2 linked regions of the Homo sapiens genome follow. The protein of the gene in region 2 interacts with the protein of the main gene of each other region in a pairwise test. Each region holds a gene or a part of one and is shown on either strand. Other genes may lie near its edges. The genes, in order: DCLRE1B and GINS2.

What was found.
Region 1: the proteins of GINS2 (region 2) and DCLRE1B interact in a two-hybrid assay, tested with the Homo sapiens proteins (one study listed by BioGRID).

The regions. Positions count from the first base shown.
Region 1 is NC_000001.11:113,907,802-113,911,455, reverse strand, and holds part of DCLRE1B (5' exonuclease Apollo), read right to left. Parts: intron 3,448-3,654; coding exon 3,265-3,447; intron 326-3,264; coding exon 1-325.
Region 2 is NC_000016.10:85,682,455-85,685,954, forward strand, and holds part of GINS2 (DNA replication complex GINS protein PSF2), read right to left. Parts: intron 1-3,500. UniProt on the Homo sapiens protein: Required for correct functioning of the GINS complex, a complex that plays an essential role in the initiation of DNA replication, and progression of DNA replication forks.

The sequences.
Region 1 (3,654 bases), on a different chromosome or scaffold from region 2:
GCTGCGACAAAGGCACGAAGCTCGGAGTAAGAGGAATGGTCAGAGTAAGGGATGACGTGGATATCAGGGTGGGAGCTGTGGATTTTTCGGCTTGTGGGAAGGATAGCAATCGTAGGGTGGGTCTGGTTCCAACGCAGCATGTTGGAATGGCAGATCTCCATATGGTCTACTGCATGGATGCGGCCAGCCTTCTCCTCCACTGTGAACACATCTGCCAGGCCCAGTAGCTGTACCAACTCCAGGCGCCGAGGACTCAATACCACCCAGGTCTGAAACTCCAGGGCCAGCTGCTCCAGCAGTGATTCCTTTCCCAGGCTGTAGAGTCCTAAATAATGTTCAATGTATTGGGGAAAGTAAGAGAAGGAAGAAAATTAAGCTATTGGAAAATCCTAATAAATCAACAAAATGTTTAACAAAAATAGATACAATTCATGGAGAAATCCAGGGAGAATATCAAGGAAGAGGTGGCATTTGAGCTAAGACATATGAAAGGGAATGACACAGAATCCACTCATTCATTTAGTTCAACAAAAGAGAGCATCTAGCAAGTTTCAGGCACCATGAAAACTAATAAAGAAAACTGTCAGTCCTCAAGAAGTACTATCTACAAGGAGACCCAGAAAAACCACAATTAAGAGCAACGTTAAAGATATGTGTACAGGCCGGGCACTGTGGCTCACACCTGTAAGCCTACAATTTTAGGAGGCTGAGGCAGGAGGATTGCTTGAGCCCAGGAGTTCAAGACCAACCTGGGCAACCTGGCAAGACCCTGTCTCTACAAAAATAAACAAATAAGCATGTTGGTGCACGCCTATAGTTCCTGGTACACAGGAAGCTGACGCGGGAGGATCACTTGAGTCCGGGAGGTCCAGGCTGCAGTGAGCTGTGATCATGCCACTACCCTCCAGCCTGGGCAACAGAGTGAGACCCTGTCTCTTAAAAAAAAACAAAAAAAGTATACAGTATTGTATCTAACAGGTGATGGAGTTAGGGAACGTTAGGCTAAATCTTAAAGGATGGGCAAGGTTAACCTGGCAAGGAAAGGGTAGAAAGGGTATAGTGGAAAACATTTTAAGAGGGGTCAGTTTGCTGTTACTAAAGTAAAAAAGGAATTGATAAGAAATGATACCAGAGAGGCAAGCAAGGGCCATATAATAGAGCGTCTTATATGTACCGCTAAGAAGCTTGGACTTCATTGTGTAAGTGAAGGGGAGCCACTGAGTGTGAAGCAGGAAAATGGCTAATTCTAATCATAAGAATAATATGCTCAGAGCAGGGCTTTAAAAAGAAAAATATGGTAATAATATTATTTGACTGCCAGGATGAGAAGAAGCTGGAGTGGAAGTTTCAATTGAAGGGCCCAAATAGTACTTACAGAGAAAGAAATGGAGACATTAATTTGGGAAATGGTTATGGTAACAGATATGGGAGATGTTGTTTAATAGCTGTTCTCAGACTTTTTCTGAAGAAGTTTCAAATCCACAACCAGATTGTGAACGCCATAAAAAGAAGTATATATTATTTATATCCACTTTATTCCTGATTATGGTTCAAAATCTCACTCCTTGGGCACAAATGGAGCGGATTTTTCTTCTCTCTATATATATTCCCACTTCCACCTCCCCACAGGTCCTTCCCTACCAGACTGTGAGCCCTCCAAGTCAGAGACTATATTTTATTCATCTTTATATCCCCACTGCCTATTGGATACTTGGTACTTAGTGGGTAGAGGCTTATTACATATTTGCAAAATTAATTAAGGCTTACTATAGCATCCTCCTAGCCAGCTTTGCTTTTTTGAGAAAATTCTGCATTAAAATATTAAGAATGGTTAGGTCTTTATAAGTAGCTAAGCAATCCTGAGAGTAGAGGATATTTCTCAATCGATTTGGTAGTCACCCTGGAAGTTATATAATTTTTTCAATGCCTTTGTTTAGTCTCATTTTGAAACTCCTTTCAGAGTTGAGACATGTCCTTTTCAAATATTTATAATGGTGGCAAGTCTTTGTCCTTTTGTAGACTCACAAATTTGGAAACAACCAAAAAAGTAATTTAGAACCAAATCTATTACATTTATTTATTTTATAAAACAAAAATGTATTTTCATAAACTATTCCAAATGGCAACTCCAAGAAAGAGTCCTCAACAATGTTTTATACTATTTATAATCAGTACAACAAGCACAAACCTGTTTTTTCAGTATACTTAATTTAAAGCACAACGCTCACTTAAATATCTATGTTCTGATAAATTTCATTCATTCATATTGAATGCTTCTGTGTCAGGCATTAGTGTAGGCATTTGTGATACACCCATAATAAAACAGAGACTGCCATAGTGGAATTCACATTCTAGCAGGGGGAATCAGACAATAAAAAGTCCAATAAATACATAAATTATAGAATATATTGCAAGGTGATGAGTGCATATTGTCCCTCTTCTACTTAAAATCCTTCAATAGCTCTTGGTTGGGTTTAGGATCAAGTCCAAAATGGCTTAACAGCACTTCAGCCCCTCTTGCCTTTTCAGCCTCCTTGCCCACTGTGTGCCTGTCATACTGACTGCTGCTTCTCTGTTCCACAAACACACAAAGTCTCTTCCCATTTCCAGTGATGCTCTTAAGGAGTTTATGCTTGTGTGTGTGTGTGTGTGCACGCGTATGTGCATGGGCCAGAGGAAGTGCATGATAGACAACAAGTAAGCAATAGCATATTTAAAAATATATATAGTATATGAGTGCTATAAAAAAATGAAAAAAATGAATTGGTATGGATGATCAGGAGTTGGGAATGGGGATGGTGGGCAGGTTGCAGTTTTACTTATTTCATTCATTCATTCATTTATTGAGACAGGGTCTTGCTCTGTCATCCAGGCTGGAGTGCAATGGCACTTACATGGCTCACTGCAACCTTGACCTCCTACTGGACCCAGGCAATCCTCCTGTCTCAGTCCCCTGTGTAGCTGGGACCACAGGCACGCACCATCGTGCCCAACTGATTTTTAAATTTTTTGTAGAGACAGGGTCTTGCCATGTTGCCCAAGCTGGTCTCAAACGCCTGGGCTCAAATGACCCTCCCATCTTGGCCTCCCAAAGTGCTGGGATTATAGGCATGAACCACCACACCTAGCCAGGTTGCAATTTTAAATAAGGTGGTCAGTGTAGGAGAAAGTGAGAACTGCACAAAGATCTGAAAGATGTGAGAATCCTTAAAGAATCTAGTTCACTATCTACAGGTGACAGGAAACTGAAAGGAAACAACTCACCAATCTTTATGTTATGTTGTGGGTGTTTTCGAATGAGCTGGACAATCTGGTGGGCAGCTTCTTGTCGGGAAGGAAGAACCAGGGCTGGATTGCAATTGGTGTTGTCTAGGTATAAAGTATGGATCTGTTTCCCCAGTGTCAGGGCTGGCTCCTTTAGCATGGATGGTGTGTATCGAAAATCACCTGGAGGAATATGTACATGGGGGCAGAAGGTCAGAGACAAAAGAATAGAAGACAAGCCTCTCCTACCTCCAACAATAGACAGGCGTTTGCTTACTAGTCTGTGAAAAAACTATTATGTAGCCTGGCACTGAACTAGGCAGTATAGCTGCATGGTTTCTTTGTTGTAATGTCTCCATCCTACTCCTATTTTTCAATTACTCTTCACAA
Region 2 (3,500 bases):
AAGCCACCCCAGCCTGGGCGTGATACAATATCCTAGGGGCTAAGCCACCCCAGCCTGGGCGTGATACAATATCCTAGGGGGGTTAAGCCACCCTGGCCTGGGCGCGATACAATATCCTAGGGGTTAAGCCACCCCAGCCTGGGCACGATACAATATCCTAGAGGGCTAAGCCACCCCAGCCGGGAGGAGGCATGACATCCTAGAGGGGTGAAAGCCCAGCGTCTAGAATCAAACAGCTGTATCCAATTCCACCAGCATCAGCACTGTTCTCACACATGCTCCAGCTCCCTCAGCCCTCCCCCTCTACAGAGAAACCTGTCCTGGGAGCAGACTGTGTACTATAGCTAAGGGACAAGCACGGAGCACAGCTACGCTGCAGGGTCCCATTGTAAACGGCCAACTACCCATCCCCAGGGCCCTTGGTGCCGTCCTGCAATCCTGGCCCAATTCCTTGGTCTACTCACCCTCTCTTCACTGCCGCCAGCACCGCCTCAACCCACCACCCACCTCTCACCTGACACCCAGCTGAGTGTGACCCACACACCACCCCATCCCCCAAACTCCCTGTGTAGCTCCTACCCACTCGAGGACCAGCCTTCCAGGTGTCCTGGACCCTCCTCTCACCTGCACAGTAAGGCACTCCAGCAGCTCTCATGCTCTTAAATGATCACTGTCCCCTCCTTGCTTGATCCTCCCAAACACACTAATAGATATAGCCTTAAAAAGAAGGCCCTCCGTGAACACCCCTCTGAGCTTGCTTATGAACTCACTAGGCTCCCCTTTTTGTCTCCTGGCAATTCCTCCTGACCTCTCGACACTGGGACAAAGAGCTCAGCTCCCAACCCCTTTCTTCACTACCTAAACTCATATCCACACCACCTCGTCCAAATGCTACCCACATGCTCAGAAAGACCTCCAAATTTATACCCCCATCAGCCCCTGAGCTCTAACTCCTAACTCAATAACCTCATTGCTGCTGTAACTTCCTCCTGGATATCCAGAAAGCACAACAGTTCAAACCCCCAACTCCTGATACCCACTGCAGCCCACAGCCTGCTCCTGCAGCCTCCCACCTCAGGAGACAGCAACTCCCTCTCCTGGGCCTCCAGCCAAGAGCCTGGCTGTCAGCTTTCACTCTTCTCCCTCACACCCCATGGCCAGTCCTTCAGCCAATCCTGCTGCTGCTTCCTTCAAAACACACCTAGACACCTACCACATCTCCCACCTCCATCAGCCAGAGGCCACTCTCAGTGCTTGCCTGGATTCATTCCCTGCTCCTATTGCACCAACCTTCTCTACACAGCAGAGTGATCCTTTCATTAACATCTGAATCAGCTTATGAAACACCTCTGGTCCAACTTTCTAGCAAATAAAAAAGCTACAGTCAAAATTTTTGGCCAGGACATGGAACAATGGGAACTCATATTTCTTGTAGGATAAAGGCTCAGCTGCTTTGAAGGACCAGGTGGCCGTTTCTTACAAAGTTAAGCATTATCCCTGAGATCCAGCAAGTCCATCATTCTAGGTATTTATTTACCCAAGGGAAAAAGAAACATATCCATGAAAAGACGTGGACAAGAATATTCACAAAAGCCTTATTAAGAATAGCCAAAAATGAGCCAGGCACAGTGGCTCACACTTGTAATCCCAGCACTTTGGGAGACCGAGGTGGAAGCCCCGGAGTTCAAAACCAGTCTGAGCAACAAAGTGAAACCCTGTCTCTATAAAAATTAGCTGAATGTGATGGTATACACCTGTATTCCCAGTTACTCAAGAAGCAGAAGTGGGAGGATCGCTTGAGCCCAGGAGGTGGAGGTTGCAGTGAGCCATGATCACGCCACTGCACTCCAGCCTGGACATCAGAGCGAGAGACTGTCTCAAAAGCCAAAAATGAGCTGGGCACATTGATGCACACCTGTAGTCCCAGCTACTAGGGAGGCTGAGATGGGAGGATCACTCGAGCCCAGGAGTTGGAGGCTGCAATTCACTATGATCACACCTTTGAATAACCACTGCAATTCAGCCTGGGCAACAGAGAAATCCCTGTCTCTAAATTTTTTGTTAAAGCCAAAAAGGGGAATCCCAAATATCTACCAACAGAAGAATCGGTGAACAAATATGTAGTATGGAGAGTACCCAGCAATGAAAGAACATAGCCAGGTGGTGTGAATATGAGTTTCAGTAGTGGAGAAAGGGGTTGGGAGCTGAGCTCTGTGTCCCGGTGTTGAGAACGTAAACAGGTAAATCTCAAAAACAGTGTTGGATAAGAGAAATCAGAAACAAAAAATGACATACTAGATTATTCCATTTACATGAAGTCCCAGAACAGGCAGAACTGGATTTGTTTTCCTGAGATGGAGTCTCGCTGTATCTCCCAGGCTGGAGTACAGTGGCGCGATCTCAGCTCACTGCAACTTCCACCTCCTGGATTCAAGCAATTCTCCCTGCCTCAGCCTCCCAAGTAGCTGGGATTACAGGCGCCCACCAAACACCCAGCTAATTTTTGTATTTTTTAGTAGAGACAGGGTTTCACCATGTTGGCCAGGCTGGTCTTGAACTCCTGACCTCAGGTGATCCACCCATCTCGGCCTCCCAAAGTGCTGGGATTACAGGCATGAGCCACCGCGCCTGGCCCAGAACAGGCAGAACTTATCTGTGGTGCAGAAGTCAGGAGGCAGCAGGCTGTTGGGTAGGGTCTATAGACAGGTTAATGGTGCCTCACTGTTCCCACAATATGGCTCCAGCCCAGGTAAAAAGTTCAAGGGGAACTCTCCACACCTTCTGACTCTAGCCTGCGATAAAACAGGCCCTTGCCATGTTATCACCTGGGGTCTAGATGGGACAAAAGTGCCAGACACTGATTTTAAACAAGGGGCCTGGAGAGGATGCTGCATTAATGGAGCCAGGCCTGGTGAGCCTCTCCTCTACAAAAGCCTTCCGGCCAGGGGCAACAGCTCACATCTGTAATCCCAGCACTCTGAGAGGATCACTGGAGCCCAGAAGTTTGACACCAGCCTGGGCAACATAGCAAGACCCCCATCTCCACTAAAAAAAAAAAATCAAAAAATTAGTCAGGCATGATGGTGCACACCTGTAGTCTCAGCTACTCCGGAAGCTGAAGCAGGAGGATGACTTGAGGCTGGGAAGTCAAGGCTGCAGTGAGCTATGATTGCATCACTATAGCCCAGCCTGGGTGACAGAGCAAGACCCTTTCTCAAAAAAAAAAAAAAAAAAAAACCGTCTCAAAGCAGAGGAACTGGGGTTTCCCATTATGTTTCAGGACTACCTGAGTCACTTGCCACTTTAGGACAGGGAGCAAGGGGAAGACACTAAGCAGTCTGTCTTAAACGGACCCCAGAGTGGCTGGCTCAATGAGCTCTTGCTTCTAGGAGGTAGGTACCCCCAATAAGTCCCAGTAAGGAGGGGGCAGTCAAAATCACTCACGGCTGAGACCCCATCTCCATAAAAAGAAAAAAAAAAAATCACTCAGGGTCTTTTCA